Linked DNA regions of Homo sapiens. The protein of the gene in region 1 purifies or fractionates together with the protein of each later gene. This does not show direct contact. Each region holds a gene or a part of one and is shown on either strand. Other genes may lie near its edges.

Region 1 (5,532 bases):
GCTACAGTTGGTAGCAGGAAGAACAATAGGCTGACCCCCATCAGTACTCATAATTGATTTACAAAATCTAAGTTTGCCAGTGAAATGTTGGCTGCATGTACAAAGACAAGAATAGGCACATAATTCTGATTTTCTTCTAGCTAGAGAGTCTTATGACAAATAGGATATTTAACAGCAATAAAATGTACTTACAAAGTACACTATCTTTCTGAGAAATTTACAAATGAGCTACACTTTCATTTTAGGAAGTTGAATACATTTTGGTGTCATGACATAACCAAGCCTTCTAGAATGTACTCCACTTTGTTGAGTCTATGCCTCTTTTACACCCTTCATAGCTGAAATCCTGTAACATTTACATTAAGAAAATGATACACAGTAAATACACATTGAGGCACATGTAACTGTGATCTCAGACTTCTAGAGTCATAAAGATCCATTTGCACATCTGCTGACAACAGAAAAATTGTAAGAGAAGATTTTTTTGGTAGATAACATGAAAATTCATAATTCAAAAATCTGAGAACCTTAAATAGCAGTGTTTTACCCCATGTTCACTGTTTTAGAAATATACTTGTTATAGAAAAATAGTGTAAATATACTATCCATGAAATAAACATTATTGTAGAATCTTTAATACTTCAAAATAAAAATTAAAACCACCTACCCACCTGTTTCCATACAAAGTTAGTGTTAGCATCGTAATGAAACTGGTCAGCATGAATTTTGAGATTCTTGTGAGAAAATGTCATAAAAACCTGAGACTGCCTGGTAAACCATGAGAAGGAGATTGAGTGACTTGTACAATGCTGTTTCAAAAGAAGGGGGGAAAACTCTACTAATTTTAATAAGGCCTTAGGATAATTACATACATTTCATACACAAATTTACAGAAGAATAAATCTATTTTTATGTAGTTTTATACCTTTGGTTATACTAATCAAGCCTTGGTGATATTTTATACTTTTGGTTATATTAAATGATAACATTAACCAGGCATGGTTTTAGCACAAACCATAACTATTGTGCTAATTAGGTAACAGTACATGGGTTGATGAGTGAACTGGAAAATACTCCACCTGCCCAAAGAAGGGAATTCCCTGTCGAAAGTGTGAGTCCACTTTCACAAATGAGAGTTTGGTTATGGTTCTTGTGATTTCACTGGACTGCCTTCCAGTCAATTCCACCACTGAAAAAAGAGAAAAAAATCTGTTATTTTTGGGAAGAATGATGTCTCTAAAATTCTATCACCTCCCCCCAACTTACAATTCATTATTTGGCTAAGAAAATCAATGCCTGTTGTGTTTTCTCTTATACCCATGTAGTACACAAACCTGTTCCTTCTTCTTGGATCTGGGCCTCAGTGTGAAGTTTCATTTCATACTCCTTCCTCTTCAGCTGGAAGACCTTGGTTTTTACTTGCTGATAGAAGCAGCCATGGCTGTTTAGCTAAGAAGGGAGAAAATAAAATACAAAAATATAATGCATATTATACTAAATAGATCAGTGGTCAGATAACCGGTGTGATTTTTGTGGGGGGACAACATCATGTAGGCATTTTCTATGACGAGGACACAATAAATATTCTCTAGCAACTAAATATTAAATTTCACAACAATATCTCATGTATAATTGACAGATGTATTCCTTGGTATCTGAAATTCCCTAGATATATTGCGATAGAAATGTCTTAAAATTTGAGGAGTAATTTTTTTTGTACAAAGGATGCATAATATTTATACATATTTATGGGGTACACGAGATATTTTGTTACATGCAGAGAATGTGTAATGATCACATCGCGGGATTTAGGGTGCCTACCAACTCAAGTATGTATCATTTCTATGTGTTGGAAATAGTTCAAGTCCTGTCCACTTGCTATTTTGAAATACACAGTACATCTGCTCTTGACCATTAGAACTCCTCATCAAAGTCTGGTTCCTCCTCCATAATATTCAGCTGTGGCTGGGAAGCGGCCTTCTATATGGGGACTGTGTTTGTCAACTCTCTGGCATCTTGGTGGGGCCATGTGATAGGTTCTTGTTCACAGAGAGAGCAGAACTGATGGCCTGGCCAGCTAAGGCAATTAAGAGGTGTATGGTTTTTTCCTTCCTTTGTAGAAGTGAATGCCCATGGAGGCTTTAGATGGCTCAGTGTCTATCGTTCTGAAACACTCACAATGGGCAATTACGAGAAATAAATAATTCCCATTGTGCTAAGTTCATGATTTTTTTTGAAAAATTACAATAGCCAACATGGAATTCTCTTCTAGATTGTTCTCTTCCTGCGTCAGAAAAATGCTGCAACTCACTGCTTTTCAACAATGCCTTTATCGCTATTCTCTAGAAAAAATAGTGTTCAACCTACCTGTCCACTGAATTTCTCACAGAAAGCCTGTGAATCTTCACCGTGGCAGTCGGAAGCGTCACTATACTTTCTGCAAATGCTCACAGTCACATGTCCAGGGACAGGCTTCCCATATGTGTATCTGTCATGAGAACATTCCCAAAGGAATCAGAGCAGACACTGAACCTCCCCATTTTCTAGCTATTTATATCTCCCCTTTAGCTACAGTATATTCCCTGTCTGTACTTCCCTCTGCTCTCTGCTGGGCTCACACAATATTGAAGACAAGAGTCACTAATGGCTCTTATAGAAATCTCCATTGCAACATGCTGAAATTTACATTCTTCTTTTATCATTTCTTTTTTTTCCTCGTTTTTTTTTAGTTTTATCTTAAAAAAGTCTTTCTTATTATAAAACTTAAACCCGTTCTTAAAAGAGAAACAATACCAGCAAGACGAAACAAACAAAACAAAACAGAACAAAAAAAACCCAAACGCCCTCAAGTCTACCTAGGAATACAAACTATTAGTACGATAGTGTCTCTTCTTCCATCATCCTCTCCCCATGTGCAGCCATCTCTATATCGAGTTTCACTTGTTTATTTTATTTTATTTTATTTTATTTTATTTTATTTTATTTTTGAGATGGAGTCTCGCTCTGTCGCCCAGGCTGGAGTGCAGTGGTGCGATCTTGGCTCACTGCAACCTCCACCTCCTGGGTTCATGCCATTCTCCTGCCTCAGCTTCCCAAGTAGCTGGGACTACAGGCGCTGGCCACCATGCCTGGCTAATTTTTTGTATTTTTTAGTAGAGACGGGGTTTCACCATGTTAGCCAGGATGGTCTTGATCTCCTGACCTCGTGATCTGCCCACCTCAGCCTCCCAAAGTGCTGGGATTACAGGCGTGAGCCACCACGCCGGGCCTGTTTACTTTTTTACAAAAGTGGGATTGTGTCGTAAATATGTCATAGACAATTGCTGGGTTTCCAAGTGCATTTGTCTCCTTTCCTATTTGAGAATGTCCTCTGTATGTCTATTTGCAAGATCACACCAGTTATGAGGAACCAGGAACTTGGCCATCACTGTGAGACAGAACTGGAGCAGGGGCCTAGCTGAATAGTAGGTGTATTACATGTGTGATCTTTGGACAGGACTATACCTGCTCTTCCTGCTACTGCTACTGTGTGCCACCATGGATGGGAACATAAGATCCAGGAAACAAGACTTTTCAAGGTTGGAACAGACTGTCTTGAGAAATCACGTTCAGTCTCTTCGTAAAAATGTCAGTGCAGACAGGTATGTAGACCCGCCTTAGGTGGACTAGTGAGTTAGATGAGATTTCAGTTGTATGCCTATCTCTACAAATTCTGAATCTAAGTGATTTTTCCAGTAAGCATGCAAGGTCAGGTAAATGATCTGTTGATGATTGAATTTCCCCTATAGCCATGTGTTAATTATCTCCCTAATATACGTTTGGTTATTTTTGGTTAAGGCAGAACCAATACCCTTCAACACTATCCACCCTTCCCATTTTGTGTGTGTGTGTGTGTGCAGTTTTGTCACTTTCAGAATCAATCCTATTAGCATAACCTCTCTAGAAACAGTTTCTTACCTCATGATAGAATAATACTGATAAGAACGTGAAAGAAAATAAAAATAGAAAAGCAACAGGAGAATAACATTCTACAGATGAGGATGCTGTCAAAGCACTTAAAATTTTTGTGTTGCCACTGCTCCCGGAGAGAGTAGTTAAAATATCCCAAATGGTGAGTCTCTTTTAAATAATCCCCCACAAAAGATTTTTAAAAAATGAACTCACAGGCCACACACTGATACATTCATCTCTTCTTCCAAGATGGTGATTATCTTTGGCACTGTTACTTGTACTTCAAACTTGGGAAGAACTGTTGATTGGTGATAAAGAAGGTTGGTGATTGGTTTTCAACTTTGGGGGAATTCCTATTTTCAGGTTCCCTGTAACAGTTCCCTAATAATATTTTAGGGCTCTGAAAAGGTAGCTCTGCTCTCCAATCTATTCTTATCTATCCTCCTCTCAAATGAAGATTTCAGTTGAGGGACTATGAGAGATCACTGTGTGCTTAATTAATTATGGAAAACTCCATTAAAACAAGAATGTTTTAATTTTGGGGGTTGGTATTAAATATTGCTACAGAAAATAACGAAGCTATGTGAAGTCCTATTCACAGATCACTGATGTCCTCATTGGACTTAGGTGTAATTAATTCTACTCCAAGCCCAATGTCACCCATGGGAAATGGAAAGACTCCAAATGAACTTAAATTCCAGGACCTAAGAGTTTAAATATGAAGAAAAATAATGCTTGATGACTTTTCATGATCCATACCAAATTCCTCCACGGTGAAAGGGTGCTCTGTCCTTCCACCTGATTTCTTCTGTACCACCACCTTGTAGGAGCCCTGGAAGGGCTCTGATGAGAGGGGAAAAGAAAATTGCTTGAGGCCACCCTCTAACTGGAAACTCTGCCATTGTGCGATGCGATTTCCTTTGGGATCCTATATGAGTAAATTAATTATAACTTACAAAAGCACCTGGAGCATTGGAGCTAATAAAAGATATCTATGGAAACCCTAAGTTATCTACAAAAAGGTCAAATGGGGTAGTAGTAAAGGGTGAGTAGAGGAGATGAGTTATAGCCATCTAGCTCTATGGGAGTTTGAAGGCTTCTCCTTTAATGACAAGTTTCTGAGATATTGTAAAAACCTCTGAAATAAGAACATTTTCCCTATATGTATTGCTTTCCTTTTAATATGGAATGTTTCATGTTGCTTACCTGAATGTATACTAGTGGAATCTGAAAGACAAAAGAAAAAAGAAGTTTATAATTATTTTCAAATATTCTTAAATCTCATTTATAAGCAAAGCAGCTAGTATTTGCTAGCATAACAGGGTGAGTATAGTAAAAAATAATTTAATTGTACATTTAAAAATAACTAAAAGTATAATTGGATTTGTTCGTAACACAAAGAATAAATGTTTGAGGGGATGGGTACTCCATTTATTGATACAGGCATGCAATGCATGATAATAATCATTATCCATGATTGGATAATGATATGGATAATGATAATGATTATCATCCATAATCATTATCATGCACTGCATGCCTGTATCAAAATATCTCATGTAACCCATAAATATATATACC
Region 2 (2,730 bases), on another chromosome or scaffold:
TCTTACCTGTACTCTTTATCCTTCAGGCTTCCGTATCCATGATTATTTGTACTTTCAAGTGCTGAGTCCTGGGGACATTCGATACATCTTCACAGCCACACCTGCCAAGGACTTTGGTGGTATCTTTGTAAGTTAAGGGAGGCCCCTGATCTCTGATCCTCAACCTCCCCCTTCCCCTCACTGAGCTGCAGTGACCCTCTCATCCCACCTGAGTGCTGGGACAGGGAAGGGAGCAGAATCAGCTCTGCCTTCCATGAGCTGCAGCACAGAAAGGAAGCTCTTCCAGCTACTCCCCTGAGTATAATATAAACCTAGGCACCATGGAGGGACAAGTTGTCTTTTTAGGGGACATGAAGTGAAAAGCCAAGAGCACCAGCTTCCTCTGCCAGCTCTACCTGTGAACTATGTGACTTAAGGCACATCACTTCCTCTCTCTGGATCTACAACCAAGTCCCCTGCCTATCTCATAGAAGGGTAGGGTGGTGTAGGACAACCAGATAGGCCTTTGCGAGAATTAAGTAAAAATGTTTAAGTGTCTGGCGATACAGAAACCACTCCATGTTTCCTTCACACTTTATAAGGTGCCAATAAGATGGGATTGTCAGCCCAGTCCTAAAGCAGGTGTGTCTCATTACACTCTCACCTGTCCAAATGTTAAATGTTTTTCAGCACACAAGGTATGAGCAGATTCACCTTGTCCCCGCTGAACCTCCAGAGGCCTGCGGGGAACTCAGCAACGGTTTCTTCATCCAGGACCAGATTGCTCTGGTGGAGAGGGGGTAAGGAGTGGGCAGGCAGGACACGAGGAGTGGGCAGGCATACGGCAGATTCTGAGATTATTGGTAGTAGTGCTTTGAAAGAGCTGTTTTTGAAAATTTCATCTTTTTAAGCGTCTTTAAGAAATGTCTAGCCTGGGCAACATGGAGAAACCCTGTCTGTACAAAAAATACAAAAATTAGCTGGGCATGGTGGTGCACACCTGTGGTCCCAGCTACTCGAGGCTGAGGTGAGAGGATTGCTTGACCGCATGTTAAGGCTGCAGTGAGCCGAGATCACGTCACTGCACTCCAGCCTGGGCAACAGAGCAAAACCCAGTCTCCAAAAAAAAAGAAAAAGGAAAAAGAAATGTATTTAAATTATCCATGCTTTTAGCTATTTACTTATGAGCCTTTATAACAGATTCTTCATAGTCTGCCTTCTATACTCCCAGGGTGATGGTCTGGGGAAGGGGGAGCTAGGACCTGTCTTTCCTTTGGTCTTATCACCACCTCTTCCAGGGGCTGCTCCTTCCTCTCCAAGACTCGGGTGGTCCAGGAGCACGGCGGGCGGGCGGTGATCATCTCTGACAACGCAGTTGACAATGACAGCTTCTACGTGGAGATGATCCAGGACAGTACCCAGCGCACAGCTGACATCCCCGCCCTCTTCCTGCTCGGCCGAGACGGGTGAGGGCTCCTTGCCTCTGGCTTTATCAGCACCAGGCTGGGCGCCATGACTGGGTCAGGGGTAATCACCAGTCCCTTCTTGCAGGCCTCAACTTGGGGTGCTTCAGTTAGAGGGCAAAAAAAGATCTCGGGCTTTGGAACTCCCAGATTGATGGGGACAGTGGGGCATGATGGGGTACCAAGAAAGTGACCGTCACCACCTCTCTTCATGCCCTCCCAGCTACATGATCCGCCGCTCTCTGGAACAGCATGGGCTGCCATGGGCCATCATTTCCATCCCAGTCAATGTCACCAGCATCCCCACCTTTGAGCTGCTGCAACCGCCCTGGACCTTCTGGTAGAAGAGTTTGTCCCACATTCCAGCCATAAGTGACTCTGAGCTGGGAAGGGGAAACCCAGGAATTTTGCTACTTGGAATTTGGAGATAGCATCTGGGGACAAGTGGAGCCAGGTAGAGGAAAAGGGTTTGGGCGTTGCTAGGCTGAAAGGGAAGCCACACCACTGGCCTTCCCTTCCCCAGGGCCCCCAAGGGTGTCTCATGCTACAAGAAGAGGCAAGAGACAGGCCCCAGGGCTTCTGGCTAGAACCCGAAACAAAAGGAGCTGAAGGCAGGTGGCCTGAGAGCCATCTGTGACCTGTCACACTCACCTGGCTCCAGCCTCCCCTACCCAGGGTCTCTGCACAGTGACCTTCACAGCAGTTGTTGGAGTGGTTTAAAGAGCTGGTGTTTGGGGACTCAATAAACCCTCACTGACTTTTTAGCAATAAAGCTTCTCATCAGGGTTGCAACTGTGTCCTAGAATAAGAGCACACGGGTGGGCAGGACCTTCAAACTCACTCGTATCGTCCCATACTGTCGTTCTGAGGAAAGGAAACACCCACAGAGGACAGTGACTGGCCTAGGTCATTTGGGACCAGTGCTCAGACTGCTAGTCTTAGATCCCAGCACAGCTTCCTGCTAGGAGCCAAGGAAGCCCTGGGAAGCCAGAGTTCAGCCCCTCAGGAGAAGACTCATCTTAGAGCCTGGAACTGGGGGTCCAAACTGGACCTCAGGGCTAGGCATGGTGGCCCATGCCTGTAATCCCAGCACTTTGGGAGGCCGAGGTGGGAGGATCAGTTGAGGCCAAGAATTCAAGACCAGCCTTGGCAACAACATAGCAAGATCCCATCTCTACAGAAAAATTAAAAATTAGCTGGGTGTGGTGGTGTGAGCCTATAGTCCCAGCTACTCAGGAGGCGGAGGTGGGAGGATCACTTGGGCCCAGAAGTTCAAGGCTGTAGTGAG

Evidence for each region. Proteins that work in one complex are often made in the same cells at the same time.
Region 2: the proteins of A2M (region 1) and PRADC1 purify together in Homo sapiens (co-immunoprecipitation; 3 studies listed by BioGRID and IntAct, with this or other methods). This does not show direct contact.

The regions. Positions count from the first base shown.
Region 1 is NC_000012.12:9,105,157-9,110,688, forward strand, and holds part of A2M (alpha-2-macroglobulin isoform a precursor), read right to left. Parts: intron 5,179-5,532; coding exon 5,158-5,178; intron 4,880-5,157; coding exon 4,711-4,879; intron 4,250-4,710; coding exon 4,165-4,249; intron 2,489-4,164; coding exon 2,368-2,488; intron 1,450-2,367; coding exon 1,335-1,449; intron 1,190-1,334; coding exon 1,080-1,189; intron 1-1,079. UniProt on the Homo sapiens protein: Is able to inhibit all four classes of proteinases by a unique 'trapping' mechanism. This protein has a peptide stretch, called the 'bait region' which contains specific cleavage sites for different proteinases.
Region 2 is NC_000002.12:73,227,510-73,230,239, reverse strand, and holds the end of PRADC1 (protease-associated domain-containing protein 1 precursor), read left to right. Parts: intron 1-26; coding exon 27-127; intron 128-669; coding exon 670-779; intron 780-1,277; coding exon 1,278-1,445; intron 1,446-1,665; coding exon 1,666-1,786; 3' UTR 1,787-2,230; downstream 2,231-2,730. UniProt on the Homo sapiens protein: Plays a role in the modulation of physical activity and adiposity.